Linked DNA regions of Homo sapiens: region 1 is linked to region 2. Evidence: fine-mapped expression QTL. A gene starts in region 2. The other region holds a variant in brackets. All regions are shown on one strand. Distances are from middle to middle.

Evidence for each region.
Region 1: its variant is fine-mapped to the expression of LINGO1-AS1 in caudate (GTEx, PIP 0.99).

Annotation. Positions count from the first base shown.
Region 1 is chr15:77,878,415-77,888,841 of GRCh38, forward strand. It overlaps the pseudogene CSPG4P13. Among named protein-coding and RNA genes, the nearest start is that of TBC1D2B, 190 kb to the right of the region's middle. RefSeq lists enhancers at 511-1,011, 9,280-10,022. The variant G/C (reference allele first, on the strand shown) is at 4,794.
Region 2 is chr15:77,635,477-77,645,903 of GRCh38, forward strand. It overlaps LINGO1-AS1 (LINGO1 antisense RNA 1), which reads left to right and starts at 6,288. Exons shown (of 3, transcript NR_045123.1): 1 at 6,288-6,481. It also overlaps a transcript of LINGO1 not described here. RefSeq lists an enhancer at 10,100-10,427.

The DNA.
Region 1 (10,427 bases), 240 kb after region 2:
ATTGAGCACCTACTGTATGCCAGGTCCTGGGCTAGGCACTTGAGGTACATTAAAGCATTTAATCCTCATCAACCCAATTTTACAAGTGAGGAAACTGCCACAGAGAGGTGAGGTGACTTGTTCAAGGTTTGACAGCCAAGTAGGAGAGCGGGGATTCGAACCCAGGTCTCTCTGGTTTCAAGACCAGTACTCATAACCCCCGCATGGATCAGTCACCATCACACCTCGAAAGTCCTGACACTCAGCCAGCCGGGATGCAGTCCACGCCACAGCCCTCACCTCCAGCCCCTGCCCTGGCCCTGGCTTTGACCCTGGCTATGTTGGCCAGACTTGCATCCGTGGATGAGTGAGGGGCCTGAGACCCTGACCCAGCCTGGCAGAACTAGAGGGGTTCCTCAGGGAGGGAAAAGGGACAGGAGGACCCAGAAGTGGCCCCCAGATCAGAAGTCAAGCAGGCTGCGCTTCTCCCACCACTAGCTGGGGTCGCCAGGGGTTCAATCCTGGGGCGGACACGGGACCCCGCTATCTCAGGTTATGGGGTTTCTAGCTAGCCAAGGCTGTCCAGTTAGGGGCGGGAGCAGGCGCCCTAGGCATGGATTGCCTAGGGCGTGGCTTTGCCCGTTTGGATTGTCTGAGACACCAGTGGGGCCACCCCAATGCTGTCCGAGCTTTGTTTGCCAGGCAAGTTTGGGGTGAGTATGTTGGGGTCCAAAGGGACCCGGCGACAGTGAGAAGTGGGTCCTCCAGCTTCAGATGCCCTGGGCCAGGAACGGGGAGTGCTACAAGGTGGGAAACGAGGAAGGAGCCACCCTGCCCTCCCCTGTGAGGAGCACCCCCACACCCCTCCAGCTGCCCCCCAGCTCTGCCCCTTCTCTCCTCCCCTTGCTTCCTTGCAGATCCATCTATCTGCCACCTCCCCTCTTCATTCTCTCCTCTCCCTCCTCCTGTTGGTGACAGGCAGGACCCCCCACCCACTACCCACTCTCAGCCTCCTAGAGGGAGAGCTGGTGCCCCTCAGCGGGGCTTGTCCTACAGATAGCTCTGGACCACCCCCTGCCACACCTCCTCATCCCAGCACTGATGCCTGACCCAGCAGAGGCTGAATGGAAGTTCGCTTTCAGAGAAGTGCTGGGATATATCCCCTCTCTGTCCCGATGCCAGAAACCCCAACATGACAGCATTCTTCCTTCAGCGAAGGCAGCTCTAGTTATGCCATAAGAACTGCAGCCTTAGGGCCCATCCATCATCACTACCCATGTGTGATTCAGTGCTTCAGCTACACCTTCGAGATCATTCCCAAGAGCAGCATGGAGCAAAGGCAGGGCCTGAGCCTCCTTCACAAGGGCCCAGGCTACACCCTTCTCTCCTTCAGATGGAGAAGCCAGCTCTAAAAGAGGGCATCACATGGTTCCCAGAAGGGAAGTGAGTCAAGGGAGGACCCCCGCGGGGTGAATCAGGGCTGGATCCCCAGGCTCCCTGTTCCTGCAGGGACCAGATCCCCTAAGATCTCAGGGCCTGAGGGATGGGCTGGGCCGCCAGGGAGATGGGAAGGGAGCATCCAAGGTGACCAGGGTGGTCAGCTCATTCAGGCCCCAGCCTCCAGCCAAGGAGGGATTCCAGTACCCCCACCTCCTTGGGCTTCAACTGAGAGCCATTCTCAAATACCTTCTTAGCCCTGACAGCATGCAGGCATGGTGCTAGGCTCGCAGGGGCACGGGAAATTGAGAGGCTGAACTGAGACTCATTCAGGAGGCAGAAAGGCAAATTAAATCTCAAACAGCAAAAATCTGGATGAAAAGTACAGAGGGGAGAAAAGCAGGGGCAAGCTGGGGCAGGACACAGGGTGGGCCTCAAACCAAGCCTTGGTGGATGGGAAGGGAGTCAGTCCTCCAGGCAGGGGCGCTGACTCAGAGGCACCAAGGTGGGTGTAAGCAGAGGGGTGTTGAGACAGGAAGGCCAGCAGCCTGGCTGGGAGGCATATTTCGAGCACAGGCCAGGGAGAACCACTGGGCTGGGGCACAGAAGCCTTAAATGGCAAAATGAAGCCCACGGCCTTATGCCCTGTTGGCAAAGGAGATGCCACAAGGGTTTTAGGGCAAGAGAGCAGCATGGTGCTGTGGGGTTTTATAAAGTTACACCATCCCCTGCCTTTAGGAGGACTCGGAAATGAGGAGGGGCTGTGAGAGCTCCCGTCCAGCAACCCATCTCTGTCACCACTCCTGGTCCAGCTGCCTGCCCTGATTTCTGCAGTAGGGGCAGCCCCTGCCTGAGGAAGGCGTCCCTCCCACCCCTCCCGGATGCCCCTGGCTGCAAAGGCCCTCGTCCTCCCGTATCCGAATGAGGCGTGCTGGGAGGCTCTCCCTCTACTCATCAACATTTGAGGCATCCGGGTCAGGGGGCCTGGCAGTCAGCAACCTAGAGGCCATCTGGGCCAATCTTCCACTTGTATAGAGAGGGAAACTGAGGCCCCAGAGAGGAAGAAAAGTACTCTGAGTTCCACCAAGAACCCCAGCAGCCCAGGAAGAGCCTCCAGCCCTGCTTCGAGGGTGCTCCCAGCCTGCGTCGGGGCCTAGGCTTGGGCCACTGAGACAGTGTGGGTGACAGATGCGGTGTCCACCTCCTTCTGAGCTGTATGGGAGGCCCCAGCAGAGAGCCAAGCATTGGGGAGATTGGATTTGAGCTGATACTGGAAGGACAGGCAGAGAAGGAAGGAGGTGACATTCTAGTCGGGGGGTCACAGTGAGCACAGGGCAGGCAGGGGTGGTGGCTCCCACACTTCTTCCCTGGCATCGCTGACTGAAAGGCAGAATGTGAGGGGTTGAAGTGGGACCCAGGTGGGGGAGTACCTGGCAGGGAGGGCTTGTGTGTTACCTGAGTGGGGACTCAGAACTGATGGGGGTATCTTAGTGAGCAGGGCCACAGGGACACCAGGTACAAGAAATTGAAGCAGGGTAGATCCTGCTGCCTCTGAGGATGGCTTGGGGGGACCGATGGTGCTCGGGACAGGCACTGAGCCTTGTGTGCACCTTGTGTGCCACCCCAGGCCTCCGGAGCAGGGCAGGGCCCAGGGGCCAGAGCCCTTGGCCCAGCCCACCCGGACTCGAGAAAAACTGTTCTAGAGCAAGTGTAACGGAGCCTCCCTCCCTACGCCTGCCCGCCCGGGCAGGACAAGAAGGGCCTTTTAGTGCTGCCCGCCTGGGGGGCCTGGGGTGGGCCATGCCAGGTGGGCCAGGCGGCTGTCGATGATGGCAGGAGGGGAGTGGGGTGCGTGTGGAGCTCGCGGAGGAAGTGTATAGGCTGTGTCTGGGAACTGGGAGTGCTGCCCAGGACGGGTGGGCAGGGGAGGGGGAGTTGGAAATAGCCCTGACATCCACACTTACTGGCGCACACAGATGTGGGCACACACACTTGCACACGGCCACTCTCACAGACCTGGACGAGCATGGCTACTGCCTCTGTCTCCAAGTCCCCTACCTTAAAGATCTGGGCCAGTGGCGCTTGCGAGGAAGGAAGTGAGCACAGGATGGGGACGGGGTGCCACCCTGAGCTGTGTCTTCTATTCAAGGCCAGGAGAAAATGAACAGGGGCTTGTGGGTCTGGGACTAGAGATTGGCCCCTCCCTGGTCCCTCTGCTCCTTCATCGCCTTTCTCCCGGACTCCTGCCCCATCCAGCTCTCCTCTCGCCTCCAACATGCCCTCCGCCCCAGCATATGTCAGTTCAATAGAGCATTCCAGAGTTAAGACTCTTCCTCCAGCTGCAAGCTTAAGACAGGTTTCAAATTTACTGTTTTACCATTCCTACTGAGTTTGTATGAGGAATTTTTAAATGAACTGAATTTGTATGAACAATTTTGTACTTGGCTCCTCCATGGGGCAAGGGTATCTAGCTCTCTCCACTTCTCAGGAGGGTCCGTAACTCCAAACAGGAGAGGACAAAGCTGTCTTATTGCTGTGCTTGCACTAGAGGTACGAGCTGGGTGTCCCATGTCCCAGGGTGTGCACTAACCATGTTGTTAGTCCTGCAGCCCCACAGCAGCCCTGCCGGTCAGGAAACAGTCACTGCAGCCTCAACCTCCCAGGCTCAAGCGATCTCCCCACCTCCGCCTTCTGAGTAGCTGGGACTTCAGGCATGTGCCACCACACCAGGGTAATTATTTTTTGTAGCGACAAGGTCTCACGATGTTGCCCAGGCTGGTCTCGAACTCCTCGGCTCAAGCAAGCCTCCCACCTGGGCCTCCCAAAGTGCTGGGATTACAGGTGTGAGCCACCATACCTGTCCAACATTCCCATTTTACAGATGAGGAAACTGAGGCTCAGAGAAAAGCAGGGACTGCCTCAGGTCTCTCTTTGGGCACACAGGCCGTGGTATTCTCACTCACTCCAACAGCAACAAGCTTCCCTACATCAAGCCAGGTGGACAACCACCCACCAGTGGGCTCGGGCCCCAGCAGGGGAAAGAGAGAGGTCTGCAGGGACAGACAGCTCGCTGAGGACTCCAGATGTTTGTTCTGTCTCCCCATCCCCCACCAGCCAGCGTTCTCTCCCTTTCCAAACCCTCCCCACTTTCTCACAGCCTAAGCAAATCCCCTTCAAAAAACCCTCTCCCCCCAAAGCTAGGGTTGCCAATGAAGCCACTTTTGTCTCTGATGTAGGGTGATAGCTGTAGGGCTGCTGTCAAGGTGGCCTGGTGGCAGGGGTGGGCCCCATCAGGGACAGTGCCTGTCCTGTTGAGCATTCCTGCCTCTCGCTCAGCTCCTTCCCACACCCAGGCCGGCTCCCAGCCTGTGGAGGAG[G/C]CCGCTGGCTCTGCCAGCCCTGGCATGCATGCGTTAGCCAGGCCTCCAGCCATCGCTCCTGCTTCAACACTTCAGTGTGTGGCTCTCCTGCGGCCTAAGGTTGAGGTGTGTCAGTGACGCTGCCTCCCTTCCCGGAACTTACTGCAGAAACCCCTGACCCCAGACCAGCCCCCCATGGATCCTGGGGAAACCCGGGCTCAGACAGAGGAGCCTGCTTGTTCAGAGTCACACAGTGAGTCCTCAGGAGATTAGGGGGAGGGCTCCCTACTCTTTGGCCCTGGTTTGGGAGGTAGCTTCACCCTCAGGACCAGCAGCTCCCCGGGAGCACACATCCCACCTGCTTTGCTCAGGGGTCTCCCCCATTGTAGGGCTCACAGCCTGGCCCCCAGAGGGGTGTAGAGATCACTGAGCCAACCAGGGATTTTCTGACTGCGCTCCAGCGCACCCCAGGGCTCTCCAGCTGAGCCGGCCTGGAGACAGCTGAGCTTGGGAATATGGGACGCCTGCCCCACCCCAATTCATGCAGAGCCACTCCACAAACCTGTTTATAGATTGGGTTCCATGAAGATTGGTACTAAGGGTCCTTGGAAGATGTCCTTCCCCAAGTCTGGGAGCCTGGAGGCCGGGAGCAGAAGGCAGTCCCAGCTTCCTCACAGCAGGCCTGGGGCTGCGTGGCCTCTCCTGCCCCAGCTTCCCACTCCTGCCCGCTGCCTGCTGGCCCTCACTCCACACTGGCTGAGTGTCCCTTATCTGAAACGTTGGGGACCTGAAGTGTTTCAGATTTCTGAATTTTTTTTGGCTTTTGGAATATTCGCTTATATATAATGAGATATTTTGAAGATGGGACCCAAATCTAAACATGAGATTGATTTATGTTTAATATACACCTTATACACATAGGCTGAAGGTAACTTTATAGATTTTTTTTAAAGAATTTTGTGCCTGAGAGAAATTTATGTTACGTTCTTACGTGTGGAGGCCAGACGCGGTGGTTCTTGCCTGTAATCCCAGCACTTTGGGAGGCTGAGGCAGGCAGGTCACCTGAGCTCAGGAGTTCGAGACCAGCCTGGCCAACACGGTGAAACCCTGTCTCTACTAAAAATACAAAAATTAGCTGGGTGTGCTTGTGACGCCTGTAATCCCAGCTACTCAGGAGACTGACGCATGAGAATCGCTTGAACCTGGGAGGCAGATGTTGCAGTGAGCTAAGATCATGTCACTGCACTCCAGCCTGGGCGACAGAGTGAGTGAGGGTTCATCTTAAAAAAAAAAAAAAGTTCTTATGTGTGAGATTTTCCACTGGTGGCATCCCATTGACACTCAAAAATTTTGGATTTAGGGACATTTGGATTTTGAATTTTCAGATTAGGGATGCTCAACTGTGTTGTGCTATGTCCTTCTCTCCCTAAATATATCATCCTCCCTGGTCAAGGTGATCCCGTGTCCCACAGACTGGCTGATCAGATAGAACTAGGCCATCAGATAATAATCCATAACCGCTGGCACCCTTCCACTTCTGCTCAAGCTGCTCCATGCAACAGGCCTTCCCTTTTCCCCCATCCTCCAAGGCTCAGCTCCAGTATCGCCACCCCCAGGAGCCTGTTCTAACCACAGATTGCTCTGAGACCCATGACCTGGATGGCCCCTCTCCTGGGGCCCTGCCCTCCATCTCTGTGGGGTTACAGGCCTTTCTTCCCCTACCCTCAGCTGGCCTCTGTCCCTGGTCCATGACTTTCTTCAGCCTGACACCCAGTAAGTGCACATGCGTATGTGTGCACACACACACTTACACATTCACACACATACACTCACACATACACATTCACACACACTCACACACACATACACACACATACACTCACACTCACATACTCTCACACTCACACACACACACACACACAGTGTTGCTCAGCAGGCAAGGAGTGTCCCTCCCCTGAGCCAGCAGCCCCAGGGAAAACCCCCCCAGAGCAGGCCCTCTGGCCTGGGCCAGTCCACTCTCTGGGGAGTCAGAGGGGGCTGGGGAGAGGAGACGAACTTCCGTTCCCATCTAAGAGCAGCCCCTTCCCCCACCCACATTTCAGGGAGGGGCAGCTATAAATACCAGTGGGACCAGGACACTGATTCCCACGACATCCACTTCTCCCTGCCCCTTCCCTGTGCACAGTGGCTGGGGCCAGACCAGCTCTCCTGCAGCTGGAGGCCAGCCAGGCAGGCCTGAGGCCTAGCCACACACACACACACACACACACACACACACACACACACACACACATACACAGACACACACATATGCAGACACACACAGAGACACAGACACACACACACATACACACACACACACACACAGAGACACAGAGACAGACACACAGACACAACACACACACAGAGACACACACATACGCACACAGACACACACAAATACGCACACAGACAGACATACACACACACATACGCACAGACACACAGACATACACACAGACACATACGCACACACAGACATACACACAGACACACACACGTGCACACAGACACACACACACACGCACACAGACACACACAGAGACACAGACACACACATACACACACAGATACACACAGACACACATGCACACACACAGAGACACACACAGACATACACACACAGACACACATAGACACAGACACACATATGCACACAGACACAGATACACACACAGACACACACAGATACACACACAGAGACATACACACACAGACACACATATACGCACACAGACACAGACACAGATACACACACGCGCGCGCGCGCGTGCACACACACACACACACACACACACACACACTCTCTTACTTCCCATCCTGGTCAAGGAAGGAGCAAATCACCCTTTTTGGGAGTCTGCGAGCAGCTAAGAGGGAGCCCCTCCCCTGCCCCTCAGCCCTGACCCAGGCCCCATCTCTCCCTCCTCTGAGTCCTGAGCTGTGGGAACCCACACAGGGAAGCAGGAGGCCAGGCACATGGTGGTGAAACACGGCATTAGAGAGCTCAGGTTGAATTCCAGCCCTAACACTCCATGCGTGACCTTGGGCAAGTGACTGTTTTTCTGAGCCTCAGTTTTCTCCTCTCTAAAATGGGGATAAATAATTTCGACCTCTTACGTCGAGGATTACGTGTGAGGATTAAGCAAGACACTTTGCCTGGAATCAATGCTCGGTGGACGTCTGCTCCTGAGGCTGCAGTCACTCTGCTATTAGCATCTTCTTCCCAGGGTGGAGTGGCCTGGTGACATGGGGACTTCTGCTTAGGAGTCTTTCAGGAAGATTCCGAGGCAAAGGCCTAGAGGAGGTGGCCCCGTGAGTCCGTGTGGGACCAAGGGACGTGGAAAAGGAGAGGTGGGCTCTGGAGAGGGTATCAGCCAGCGGCTGCCTGCCAGCCCAGGACCCTTCAGAAGGTGGGAGGGGGTGGGGGTCTGCATCTCTGTGGCTAACTGGGCTGAGGCCCACACCCCTCTCCCAGTGCTAGAAGAAGCAGGGACAGCCCCTGCCTGGCCCTCCCCAGGGCCTGTTTCTCCCAAGCCTAACAGCCCCTAGGATGGGGCTCACTGGGCCGGGGCACAGCAGGAACCCCCTGTCCCCAGAGCAGGTGAGTGAGAAGAGAATGAGCAGGTATCAGGACCTTTTATGGGACAAGGGACCCTAGAAGCCTGTCTTTTCCCTGCTCTCTACCAACCCCTCGCGAATCCCTCTCTGGAGGTGGGGGCTGGAGGCCAGGGCCCAGGGACGCAAGATAGCTCACCTGCCAGGGCCACCATGGGGCTGTTACCACCACTCATGACATAAGCAGTGGTGGCTGCATCACGAGGAGCAGAAATCCGGACTGAGGGAGGGGACAGCCCTCTCCGCTCTGGGCTGCTAGGACCCCTCAGGGGGATGGGTGTATGTGAGCTCAGAGTAGGGGGAGGTGTGGGCAGGTGACTGAGGTGACTGCAGAGTGGGGTGTGCAGCTTGGGGCTGGGACACTGGAGGGACCCCGGACAAGGGCCGGCCCGTGCCTGAGCCCTCAGGGCAAGATCCCATTGTGCAGGCCCCCACTGCCTTCACCCACGTAGAGGTGACTCTTCTCCACAGACCCCTGGACAGGGCCCAGACAGGCCCCCCACCCACATGTGCTAACAGAATCCAAGTGGCTGCCCCTGGCCGAGATTCTATCTCTGGGCATGTGGGGCCCATGTGTTTCTGGCCACCCACCTGGAGCCTGGCTGAGCCCCTCCAGGGGTGGGTACTCAGACAGGGGCTGTCCTTCCAACCGTGGACAGCCCTGGGGCCGGTGAGATATTGTAGAGACCTGAGCCAGCTGGCTGATGGTGCCACAGCCCTTGGGCTACCTGGCCCTGCTGTGTGGCCTTGGGGAGACCCTGGCCCTATCTGGGCCTCTGGGTGGAATCTTCAGTCTCCTAGGTCAGCTCTAAATTCTGAGCTTGAGCCTCTTGGGAACAGGACAGGGGCCTCTGCCTCTATCTAGAGAGAGCCAGCTGCTTGTCCTGGGCCAAGCAGCAAGGCAGGCTAGGCCTGGAATGGGGCTGAGAAGCAGCCCAGCCTGCCAGGACTCCCTGGCATTGGAAAGCCACTTTCCTAAGTTGGCATGGAGCCCTGGGGCTCCCCCCGGGATGAGAGCAGCGGCTCCTCTCCACCCCCGGTTCCCATCTTCCACCCCCTGGCCCCAGCCCCGCCCTGCCAAAAATAAACCCAGACCACCCCATCTTGTACCAGCCAGACCCACCCAGCCCCTCCAGAGCCAATTGAGTCACCACTCAGAGCTGCTCCTTTTTTAACTGTCTGAGTCACTGCTTGTGGCTCCATGACACATGCCCCAGGCTACGGTTACCCCACAGCCCCTACAAGCGCAGCCAAGGGAGGGGTCTGCGTAGAGGCTGGCAGCAGGTGTGAGTCCAGGCCATAGCCTTAGCTTGTGAGCCCTCCAGGCCTAGGGAACTCACTCCATAGCAAGCCAGAGACCAGACCTGTCCCTCAAGGTCCCGGCCGTGCCCAAGACAGCCCTTGGGGATCTTGGTGACAAGGTCAATCTGGGCTCTGCCCCACAACATTGAGTTGCCTCCAATAGGCCTTGGGCCTTCCCCGTGGAGACTGCCGGGAACGGAGGGTCTCCAGCCCCTAGACCCTGGAGGCTGGGGGTGGGCGAGGCCACAGAGACGCCTGCTTCCTCCCTCCTCACCGGCTCCACCCGGACTCTGACCACGCTGCCTGGAGCACCATGAAGACTCTATGGAACGGAAGCCACACTTCAGTCTCCCCTCACGGCTTCTGTCTGCCCCTGCGCAGGGTCACCCGGGCTGCAGAGCACCCCCGATCTCTCAGTCCATCCCCCCATCCCGCTCTCTCCATCTCTCTGTCCTTTCCCACCCCTGGCTGTGGTTCCTCCATCTCTTTCTGTCTGTCTTTCCTACCCTGTCTCTCTGTCTGTCTGCCCATCTCTCCAGTCCTGCTCTGTTCTCCTTCCCTTCTCCTTTACCGGGTTCCACGGCAGTCAGAAGTGCTCCCTGCCGCCAGCACCCCACCCGTCCCCAGGGCCCTCTCTGCCTTCTCAGTAGACATAACAGACCCTCACCTCCTCCCATTCCCACAAGGGACTCTGGGCCC
Region 2 (10,427 bases):
GGGGTGGTTCCCAGCAGAGTCCTCTCAGGGGTCCCAGGGCCATGGAGAATGTGACACACCGGGATGGCCTAGTCCAAGTGTGCTCTGGCACAACCAGGGGATCATGTCCAGGAGCTACAGCTGAAGAATGTTCCCCGCACCCCAGGCCTTTGTGCCTGCTGGACCACCCTGGTGGCGTGCCTTTTCCCTGATTTCTACCTGTGCTTCAAAACCCAACCAAGACCCATCTCTTCTATTCCTGTCTCCTCTCCCCAGACTGAAATGACATTAGAGGCAAGGCCCAAATCTTTTCCCTCTATCCTCAGACTAGGTGCTCCCAAGAGCAGATCTGAGACTGCGTGTCTCATAGGTGGGCACACAGCAGACCCTGGCTGCAGGCTGAGAACTCAGCAAGTCCCAATAAAGCAGGAGCCAGTGGCTGGAAGGAGCCAGCCTGACTGCTCACTGCAAAGTGGAGAAGCTGGAATGGGTTTGCCCGGGAACACAGGAGGAGGGGAGAAGGCCCTCCACCATGTATTCAGCCCTTACTATAAGCCAGACTCAGCCACACTTCACATCTTTGTCTCTCTGCAAGATTGGCATTGCTGTTCCTACTGTACAGATGAGAAGACCGAGGCTCTGGGAGGGCTGGTGACTTGCTCAAGTTCACTCTGTGCACGAGTTAGAGCTGGGCTTTGAAGCTCTGTGTGTATCTAATGTTAGTCCTGCTCTCCTTTCACTCTGAGAGGCTGAGGAGGCAGGAGGTGGAGCTGGGGCAAGGACCAAGGGTCCCCCAGGCACAGAAAGGAGAGGGTGGCACACACAGGCCTGCCTACATGCCTGCTCTATGCTGGTCCTATCCACTGGCATCCCAGCAGCTCGCAGGGTTTTACGATGATGATTATTTCTGAAGGCACTTGAAATTAATGACGGCTCTAAAATGGCTGGGACAGCAGAGTCATTGCTGAGACCTCTAATTAGCAAGAAAAACGGAGACCAGGAGCCTTGGAGGTGAGTGGGGGTTGGGCAGCTGGCATTGGGCATGGAGCAGGGCTGGGGGAGTGAGGTGGAGCCAGCATCCAGCTGGGGGGCCCTGTGGAGCTGGGTGCTCAGGTGGACCCCGTGTTCTACTTTATGCCACAAGTTAACTTGTTAACTTGCTGTGTGACCTTGAGGGGGTCACAGCCACTCCCTGGGCCAAAGTTTCCCCAGCTATGCAATGAGAGGTTGCCCTGGGGGGGTCTCTAAGCTCAGGGCTCCTTGGACGACCCTGATCCCCTAAAAGGCTGAAGTCCAGAAGGTGGGGGCCATGTAGCCTCCAGAAGCCACCACAGAGACCCACAGCCCTCCATGATGGGGTTGCTGAGGCCGCTGTGTAATGAAGTACTAGGCTAGAGTGAAGTGGATTGAGAAGTGGCAGAAAATCCATAGGTCAGGCCCTGCGCTGGTGCACTGTGGAGGCCAGACAGGGATGGAGGCACCTGAGGGGGCTAGCGGGACAGTCCCTTCTTGGAGGTGGTCCTGGAGATGTGGCTCGGTATAGAGCCTTCCTGCCCCCTCCTGACCCCCTCCTCAAGAGTCAGAGCAGACTTGGGGACACCAGCTTCCCATGTAAGCATGTCACAAAGGGTCAGGCCTGAGTATCTTAAAGGAAAGTCCCTCATCCAGTGCTGCCCAAGTCTGGATCCTCCACATCCTGCATGGGGCAGCCAACATGGGGAAGGCACAGGGGCTCACCTGGAGGGGTTCTCTCCCCACAGTGGCTGGCCCAAGTTGGTGTGGAGATATGCAGGTTCCCAGGGAACATCCATGGTGGGTGCAGGCTGAGGCCAAGACTCAAGGGCAAGGGTGTGTGGGAGGCCCACCCCCGTTAACTGGGGCATCCTCTTCCCTGGCATTTACTTCATGCTTGTCTTGTCATCGATAGCTTTCTCAGCCCCTCAAATCCTCTCCCCTTCCAGTTCAGGTCCCTGTGTGTCCCCCTCCTTCCAAAAACCTGCTGAGAACCTCACCTTCCCCTCGGGCGGGGCTGTATGTCCCTGGACACCTTCCTGAGTCTCAGTTTCCTCCTCTGTAAGATAATGTCGGTTTCACGGGGTGGTGTGAGGGTCTCATGGCTTAACGTGTGGCTGGTATCTACCTGATGCTGATGTAGTAGGAGCTTGATAAATGCAGGTATTTTTAGGTGATCATACTGACTGTCATGGTCACTGGCTGCCTCCTGACCCCTTCTCTTTAAAGTCAGGGCTCTAGCCTAAGGTCCCTTTCAGCATTCCCACTCGGAGACACCTGGACCACATTCTCTGTCGCCTGAGAATCAGGAACACCCTGAGGGCTTGGATTCATCTTGTCTCCTCCAGTTTCCACAGCCAGCCCACAGCCCTGATTCCAGAGGGTCTGATGTCTACAAATTACACCTGACTGAAGTCTCTTAATCAGGAAGGCCCAGTAGATTCCCCTAGAGAGGAGGGCCAGGGCATGGGGGCAGGGACACTCTTGAATCCATACTTCTTACTCCCTCTCACCATGGGGCACCCATGCCTCCAAGGAAATGTTTCAGCACCAGTGACAGGTCACTTGTCTAGAAGCAACGTAGTCAGCAGCCTCCCCTACTGGGAATCTCACTGGGAATCCGGGGAAGCCCAAAGGCTCTTGGAGAACTCAAGACAGAAGCCCTGGCAGAGAAATGAGGTCTGGGCCTGGCCCCCACTCAGTGCTGCCACGGCCCTTCTGCACTGGGTGGCCTGGCTGCTGTGTCTACAGTGGCTGAGAAGCAAGAAATTGGTCTGGGGCCAGTCCGTAAAGGGCCCCTCAGCACTACCCCCGCCGAAGTTCCCCCCAGGAAAACACCCAGTGTTCCTGACCTTGAGTTACTGTGGGATGCAGTTAGCTGTTCTTAAGAAGTCAAGGAAGTGTGCACTCCTTTAAAAAAAATTAGATTAGGAGCAAAAACAAAAAAACAAATAGAAAATGTAAGATCACTCCCTGGCTCCATGGGAACTTGGGCTCTGTGCTTGGCAGAGAGGCTCCTCCTGAGAGCCTGGCTCGGCTGTCCCCATGGATCATGTCAGGGGGAATTTGAGCTAATGTGTGCAAACAGGCAGCACTATTAGCAAATCCATTCATTAAGCGCTTGCCTTAAGTTCTGTTGTGCAGGAGACTTGTTTATTAACTTAAGTCGGAGCCTGTTATTAAGTCAAAGGCAGCATAGTGGCTCGAAAGGTGCCCAGCATCAGGGCCAGGCAGTCTTGGGTTCCAGTTCTGACTCTGTCTCTGACTCCTGTGTCACCCTAGGCAAGTCACTTTACCTCTCTGAGTCTCAGTTGCCCAGTGATAGGCAGCCCCTAAGAGGACTCCCAGTGGTCCCTGCCTTCTGGTATTGCCCTGCTTGTGTAATCCCCTCCCCTTCAGTGTGGGCTGGATCAGTGGACCCACTTTTAGTGAACAGAATACGGCAGAAGTGACACAATGTCACTTGTGAGATTAGATTACAAAACAACTGTGGTTTCCATCTTGGGTACCTTTTCTCGATCACTTGCTTTTTGCTATGAGGAGGGCCAGTTGCCATGTTACGAGAAGCCCACATAGAAAGGAACTGATGTCTCTAGTCAACCCCCCATGAGGCCCTGGGACCTTCCAATCGCCACTTGAGTGAGCTTGGAAACAGCTCCTCTTTGAGTTGAGCCTTGAGATGACTGAAGCTCCGGCTGATGTCTAGATGGGAGCCTTGTGAGAGGCCCTGAGCTAGAGGTACCCAGCTAAGCCTCACCTGGATTCCCAACTTACTGAAACTGGGAGGTAATACATATTTGCTGTTTTAAGCTAAGTTTTGGAGTGATTTGTTATGCAGCAATAGATAATTAAACTCATGCTCCATCTGTAAAATGGGTATAGTAACTCCTTTCTCCCAGTGTGGCGAGGGTATTGAGATAAGGCAGGCAAAGTGTCTGCTCTCAAGGGGGGCAAGGAATGGCCCGGCAACTTGGTGGTTATCCAGTAAAGGTGGAAAGACGCACACCCTACGACCCAGCAGTTCCCCGAGGCATGAGCACACGAGGGCAAGCAGAGGAGCGCGCATGGCAGGATTGTTATAGCGAAAAACAGGAAATGGCCTAAGTGCCCATCATTGGGAAAAGGAATGTACAGAACACGGTACATTCGCACAATGGAATACTATGCAGCAGTGAAAACAGCTATGTTGGAGTTACTTGCATCAGCATAGGTGATCTCATAAACACGATGTGGAGGAAAAAACATATGTACAAGGTATACCATTTATCTCAAGTTTAAAAACAAGCCCCAAGCCCTATAAACTGAATATGGATACCTACAAATATAGGAAAAGTATTAAAACACGCAGGACAGTGATTAACACCAATTCCAGAGGACTGTCACCTCTAGGGAGAGAGAAGGGGAGGTGGCAGAGTCAGGCCTATCCTGATCCCCACACTTTGAACCCCACACCATGAGCAGCACGGTGGTTCTAAGTGTGTTATCCACTCACTCAGCAACCCGCTCAATCCTCTCAGCAACGCTATGGGCTCCCTTCTATTACTATCTCATCTTACAGTGGGGAAACTGAGGCACACAGAATCCAGGGAGATATTCCTGGGCTTTCCAGCCTAGCAGGAAGCCAGGACTTGGTTCCTCACTCTGTCATTAACTTGGAGGAGTCCACATTATCTCCCTGGCCTCAGTTTATTTTTCTGTGACTTGGGAGACACTCACTCCTTTCCCTAGATAGGTGTGGCTTGAGAGACTCGCAAAGTCTTGATTAATCAACCTGGAATATTTGCAGAGACCCTGTGAGCCAAGCCTGGTCCCAGCTACATGGCAGGGGAGACTAAAAACAAGGAAGTGTGGACGAGAGAAGGCGTAAATAAGACAATTCAATCCAACGTAATTCAGTATGGTTCAATTTCACATGGGCTCAAATCACGGACAGACAACGGGTGAGGTTAAGGATATTACTTGAGCACCTCTGGCATGCTAGGCCACATACTAGGTGCTTTTACAAATTATATAAGCCTCAATCACACCCTGTAAAGTAGGGACTGTTATTATCCTCATTTAGCAGTTAGGAAACAGGATCAGGGAGGGTGAGCAACTTCCCCAGGTCACACTGACAGCTGAGATTGTCAGGATGTACCCTCCCTCCATTCTGACCTGTCCTCTGTTTGGTGTTGGGGACATAGACGGAGACCAGGCCTTGGTGCCCACTGGGGAATCTCAGCACAGACCAGGAGAGTCTGGAGGAGTCCAGAGGAGGTGGAGCAAACAGGAGAGGCTTCCTGGGGGAGGAGGGTGAAGGCGAATGCTTCAGTGGGCTCATTGGTGGTGAGACAGGTGGAGGCATCCATCCATTCATCTCCTCATTCATTCATTCATTCATTCATTCATTCATTCATCAAATGCCAAACATTTGCCACAGTTTTCTCTAGGCTCCAAAGCCCATGGTCTGGCAGGCAAGACTCAACCTAGTGTGATCCAGGCTGAGGTGGGAGAAGTGGGGGTGGGGCTGCACACACACAGCAGGCAGGTCAGACATCCAGAAGGAAGCAATGGCTGAGCTGAAATCAAAGGATGAGTTGGGATCAGTCAGGTACACGGAAGGTAGAGGCTGGTGCTCCAGGCAGAACAGCAGGTGCAAAGGCTGGGCCCTGGGATGGAGGGGAGAGACAGCCAGCCCTGAGGAAGGCCGCTGCTGGCCAAGGAGGTGCCAGCTCAGCTGAGAGTGGGGTGCGAGGCTGAGGCTGCCACCACCTCTCGCCCAGGTAGGGTGGCTGCCTGCCTTCTTCTCCAGCTGATGGGTCCCCATGCCATCTCAGCCCTGTTGGGTAGGCTGGGTCCCTCTCCAGAGAGATTAAGAGCAGGGGAGTTTGAACCATAACGGTGCATGTAATTATGTGCAAAAACGAAGGAGGGCTCCTTAATAATTGATGGTGGGAGAGAGTAAATATCAGCAGAGGCACCCAGCTGCATCACCCCGGCCCGTCTGGCTGGGACCCAGGGCGGCTGCTTGTCCACTAATATGCCTATAAATTATTGAAGTTATAAAGAAGAAAGCAGGTGTCATGTCGCACCCATAAACAGCTTGTTAGCTAAGACTAACGAAGGGGCGGCCGGCCTCTTGGCACTGCATGGGCTCCCCCTACACCCTCCCCAATTACAGAAGGAGACAGATGAGGAGTGGGCGTGGTAGGAGGCTGAGAGCCTGACTGGCCCCACACCCCGTCTCCCACCATCTTGACCCACTGTGGAGTCAGGTGGTGCTGGGAGAGAGAAGAGGCCCAGAGACACAGAGAGCCAGAAACGGGGCTGTGGCTGTCCCAGCACTGTGGGTTCAGATAGCAGCTGGACAAACCTGCGACAGAGGATGTCAGAGGTCCTGCCCAGCCTGATAGGCTGAGGCCAGCTGGGATGCTGGGAAGAACTAGACACTGGGGTCAGACACTCAGGGTGCACATCCCAGGGAAGCCACCTGTTGGCGGAGTGGTCTTGGGTAAGTCACCTGCCCTCTCTGAGCCGCTTTCCATTCATGCCACCTGGGGATACTCATGCCTATCTTGGAGGGTTGTGGGAAGGGTTCTAAGAGCATATGCGTGTGACATTTCTTGTGGACAGTAGGCCCTCATAAATGGGGCGCTCCTCCACCTCTGCCTTCCACCCCCATATCTCAGGGGCTCCTAATTAGATCAGGCCTAATGAGGCTTCCGTCTGCCTGGCTGTTTACGCTCCATTAAGACCTGAGTCCAGGACAGCAGTGGGAGGGGAGACAGCTGCGGAGGGGGAAGGTGTCCAGTTGCCAGGGCTTGGTTCATCCTAGGCTTCACCATGCATGGGGGACCCCCACCCCCAGGGAGTGGAGGAGGGAAACAGAGGCAGGCCTCTCGAGTCAGAGCTGCCAACAGGGAGAGGCCCCATGGTGTGGGGAGAGGGAGAAAGGAGGATAGAAAGAACAGCTGGGAAGGTTGGCATTTTGGCTCCTCTATGTGAAGAGCTTGGAAGGCCACTTCCCCTCAGGCTGGGGGTCTGCAGTCTCTGAGATGTTCCCTTCCAGGCAGCCTAATTTGGACACTTAGGTGCCCATGGAGTGCTCAGCTCTGCCAAGGGCCACACGAAGGCCAGGAGGGCAGTCTGGGCCTAGGGAAGGTGCCCCTCTCCCCAACCTGGCCCTAGGAAGCCCTTCAGAGCCCCCATAGTCTGCTCCATACCACACAGGGAGCAAGGCTGGGACCGGCACTTGGGCTTGGGCAGCAGACAGGTTCATCTCCGGGTCCGGAAATCCCCCAGCAGGGCATTACTTCTGCAAGTGCTTCCCTTCTCCCAGAGGAAAAGAGGGAATCCCGAAAATTCTTATCAAATACGCTTTGAGCCTCTTCTCCCAGGGGTCCTCTCTGCACCCCTTATCTCACTTGTGCAGCCTTGGTCTATCCCGCTGAGGCCTCTTTGCAGATGCACAGAGAGGTGCCTTAGCTGCCTGAGGCCATGCAGCGAGTCAGCAAGGAAGCTTGTGGAGCCTGGGCTTGGTGCCTCTCCCCACACCACTGGACTTAGCTCTGGGAGGAGACAGAGACTCACACACAGCGCACTCTCTGACAGCCACTGTGGTGTGGTGGTGTGGCATTCCCAGGAGCTCTCTTTCTGCCCAAGAACTCCCCGTGCCCTGGACACCTGCCTGTCTGTCACCCGCTTATCAGGGTGAGGGCAGCTGGGGCTGGCACTTACAGTATCAGTCAGGGCAGCCTGGTCAGATAGGGGATGGAGATGTCTTTCAGGTCCCCTGGATGGTGCTGGGAGCAGGACGGCTGTGTGGGCTGGACTAGGCAGGAGAGCAGGGCTGTCCACAGGATCAGGGGAGACCCAGGGCCCTGGGGCAGGACTGGGGACAGAGGCAAACCTCAGGGTAGGGAGGTCCGCAGTGGGAAGGGCCCTCTCCCCTCCCCGTCTAGGTCAGACCTTGAGAAGGGCTGCTGGGACACCAGCAATGGTCCGGTTACAGGGAGGGGCTGAGAGGCCCATGGGGCATCGGGGTTGGATGGCGGGAGGGAAAGCTGGGAGCCTCAGGCCTACAGAGCTTCCGCAGGGGCTCTCCTGGCTCCTTGGCCTGCCACCCCCTTCCCTGCCATTCTCGGGCATGCCATGCCTTTGGTTATGGGCAAAGTGTCTGAGAAACTCCCTCATCACAGGGGTGGCATGGAGGTGGGGGTACTGCAGGTGGCCACCCCAGCACCATGGTTCAGGGCTTAACCCCCAGAGGGCAGCACCCACAGCCCTGGCCCAGGGGCAGCAAACCCAAGGGAAAGCTTCCTTCCCGAGTCTGGTGCCACCTCCAGGGAGGACACTTTTCATTCCCACCTCTTCCTGCTCCAGCATGGGAAAGGGCAGGGGGTGACAGCTGTAAACAGGGAAATGGGGGTGGGGGTGCAATGGCTCAAGGACCTCCTGAAATGTGGACTCCTCTGGGCAGAGCACTTGGCCAAGTCCCTCCCCGCTCCGCCCTCATTCCTGAATGTGGCACCTGCTCCAAAGAGTGGTGAGGACACGCTGGGAGAATCCATCAGAGCCACGGGGCAGGGCCCGGCACTCAGGAGCCCTCCAGGGGAGAGTCCTTGTGACCGTGAATCTAGCTGGGGCAGCGGCATCTGCTTTGCGAATGTATCTACGCTGGGGAGTTTAGGAAGGATACGTAGCTGTGTTGTGTTGTCGAACTCTGTGGTATGTGTCATGTTGAACATGTGTGTGGTGTCTCTGTCGTGTGTGTCAGGGTAGGTGTCCCGAGCAGAACTTTTCTGCAGCTCCTTCACCAGTCCACAGGCAAAAGCCCCCATTCAGGGTTGCCCAGCTGTGCCGGAGGAGCCACAGCTGTACCCGGGCTGTGCCCTCTCTCTCTATCCCTTCTCTGCCCAGGCCATCCTGGAAGCACAACCCCCTCAACATGGCTGCCCTGAGCCTGCACGGGAGGTGGTCGAGGAGGGGTACCCTGGTTCCAGGGGTCCCCAAACAGGCTTGAGCATCTACCTGCTTCTTCTGAGCCCACCCTGTGGTATTTCCGTCACCTGGGAAATAAGGATGGCATTGGTGGAGGTGCTAGCAATACCAGGAGAGCAAGACAGAGCCCAGGATGTGGACCCAGAATATGACAGGAAATGGGCCCCAGAGCAGAGCTAAGCCCAGGGGCAGGCTGAGCCCGGGTCAGCCTCTCACTGGCCACTTCGGAAGCTGAGGGACACAGCACTGGCTGGCTCCCTCAATCCCTCCAGCAAACACAGAAGTGGCTGCTGTGCCCATTTGACAGACGAGAAAACTGGGGCTAAGAGGGGTGAGGTAAGTTGCACTGGTGGAGCCAGGACCAGCGGCCAGGCCTGGCCCTGGTGACGAGCGGTTTAGGGTTGGATAAAGGGCCACTGGGTGGGCTCTCCTCTATGGGATAAACAATGTGGCTCAGGCCAGCAGCCCGAGAGGCGGAGAGATCTAGAAGGCCCCAGACGATAGGAGGGCTCCCCACACTCTTAAATCAAAACATGGGCGTTTACACTCAGACACAGTGTGTTCACACCACCTGCTGGGGCGTGAAAACCAGCCATAAATACCTGCATGGTGGTGGTGGCTCATCAGGAGTGGGGAGAGAGGCCTGGTGCGCTTTCAGGAAGTTCCCAGTGACTCACAGGCTGTGGACCCCTCTCTGCACTTCCAGACACCCCTCCTCCCAAACATACACACTCAGAACGGGCGGTGCAGGGAGCAGTGCCCATCCATTCCCAACACCAGGGGCTGAGGGCACTGGGAGGAAGGAGCCCTGGCCAGCCAGCTTGTAGGGACTCCACACATCACAGCCCAAGACGCTGGGACAGCAGGCCCCAGGGCCCACAGTGGGGTGGGTGGGATAGGGTGGAGGCATGGCCCTGAGGCCCACTCTTTATCACTGCCTCTCTCCCAAGAGCTACCCAGACCACTCAGTAGACCAGTGCCCAGCTCTCTTTCTAGGCTTAAACTTGGCAGCAGAGTCCCATTTACTTAACGTGCTGAAGGTAGAGCGAGGTGGACGTGCACGCCTCATGGCTAAAGATAAATGCCAGCTAATGCCTGAAGTGTGGAAAACATCGTGAACAAATTCAGGGCTACTGTGTTCATCCTCCCATCCCTAGGCCAGTGGGTCTCTGACTGGTGAACACAGGGCTGCTGCCTCCGTGGGCCTCAGTTCTGAGCCTGCCCGCACTCTGCATCCCATACACGTCTTCCCAGTCCCACCAGAGAGCTGGCTCCAGACCCGCTTTAGAAGAGCTGGTGGCCTTTCCTGAAGCCAGCCGTGTGCACTGGGAACTGAAGTGTAAACAGGAGCAAAGCTCAAGGCCTCGCTGGTAATTCTCCCTTTGTGGTGGGCATTAGCTAGCCTCACTCACGAAGGGGACAGCCCAGGGGTGTAAGATGCCAAGTGCCCTTAGACA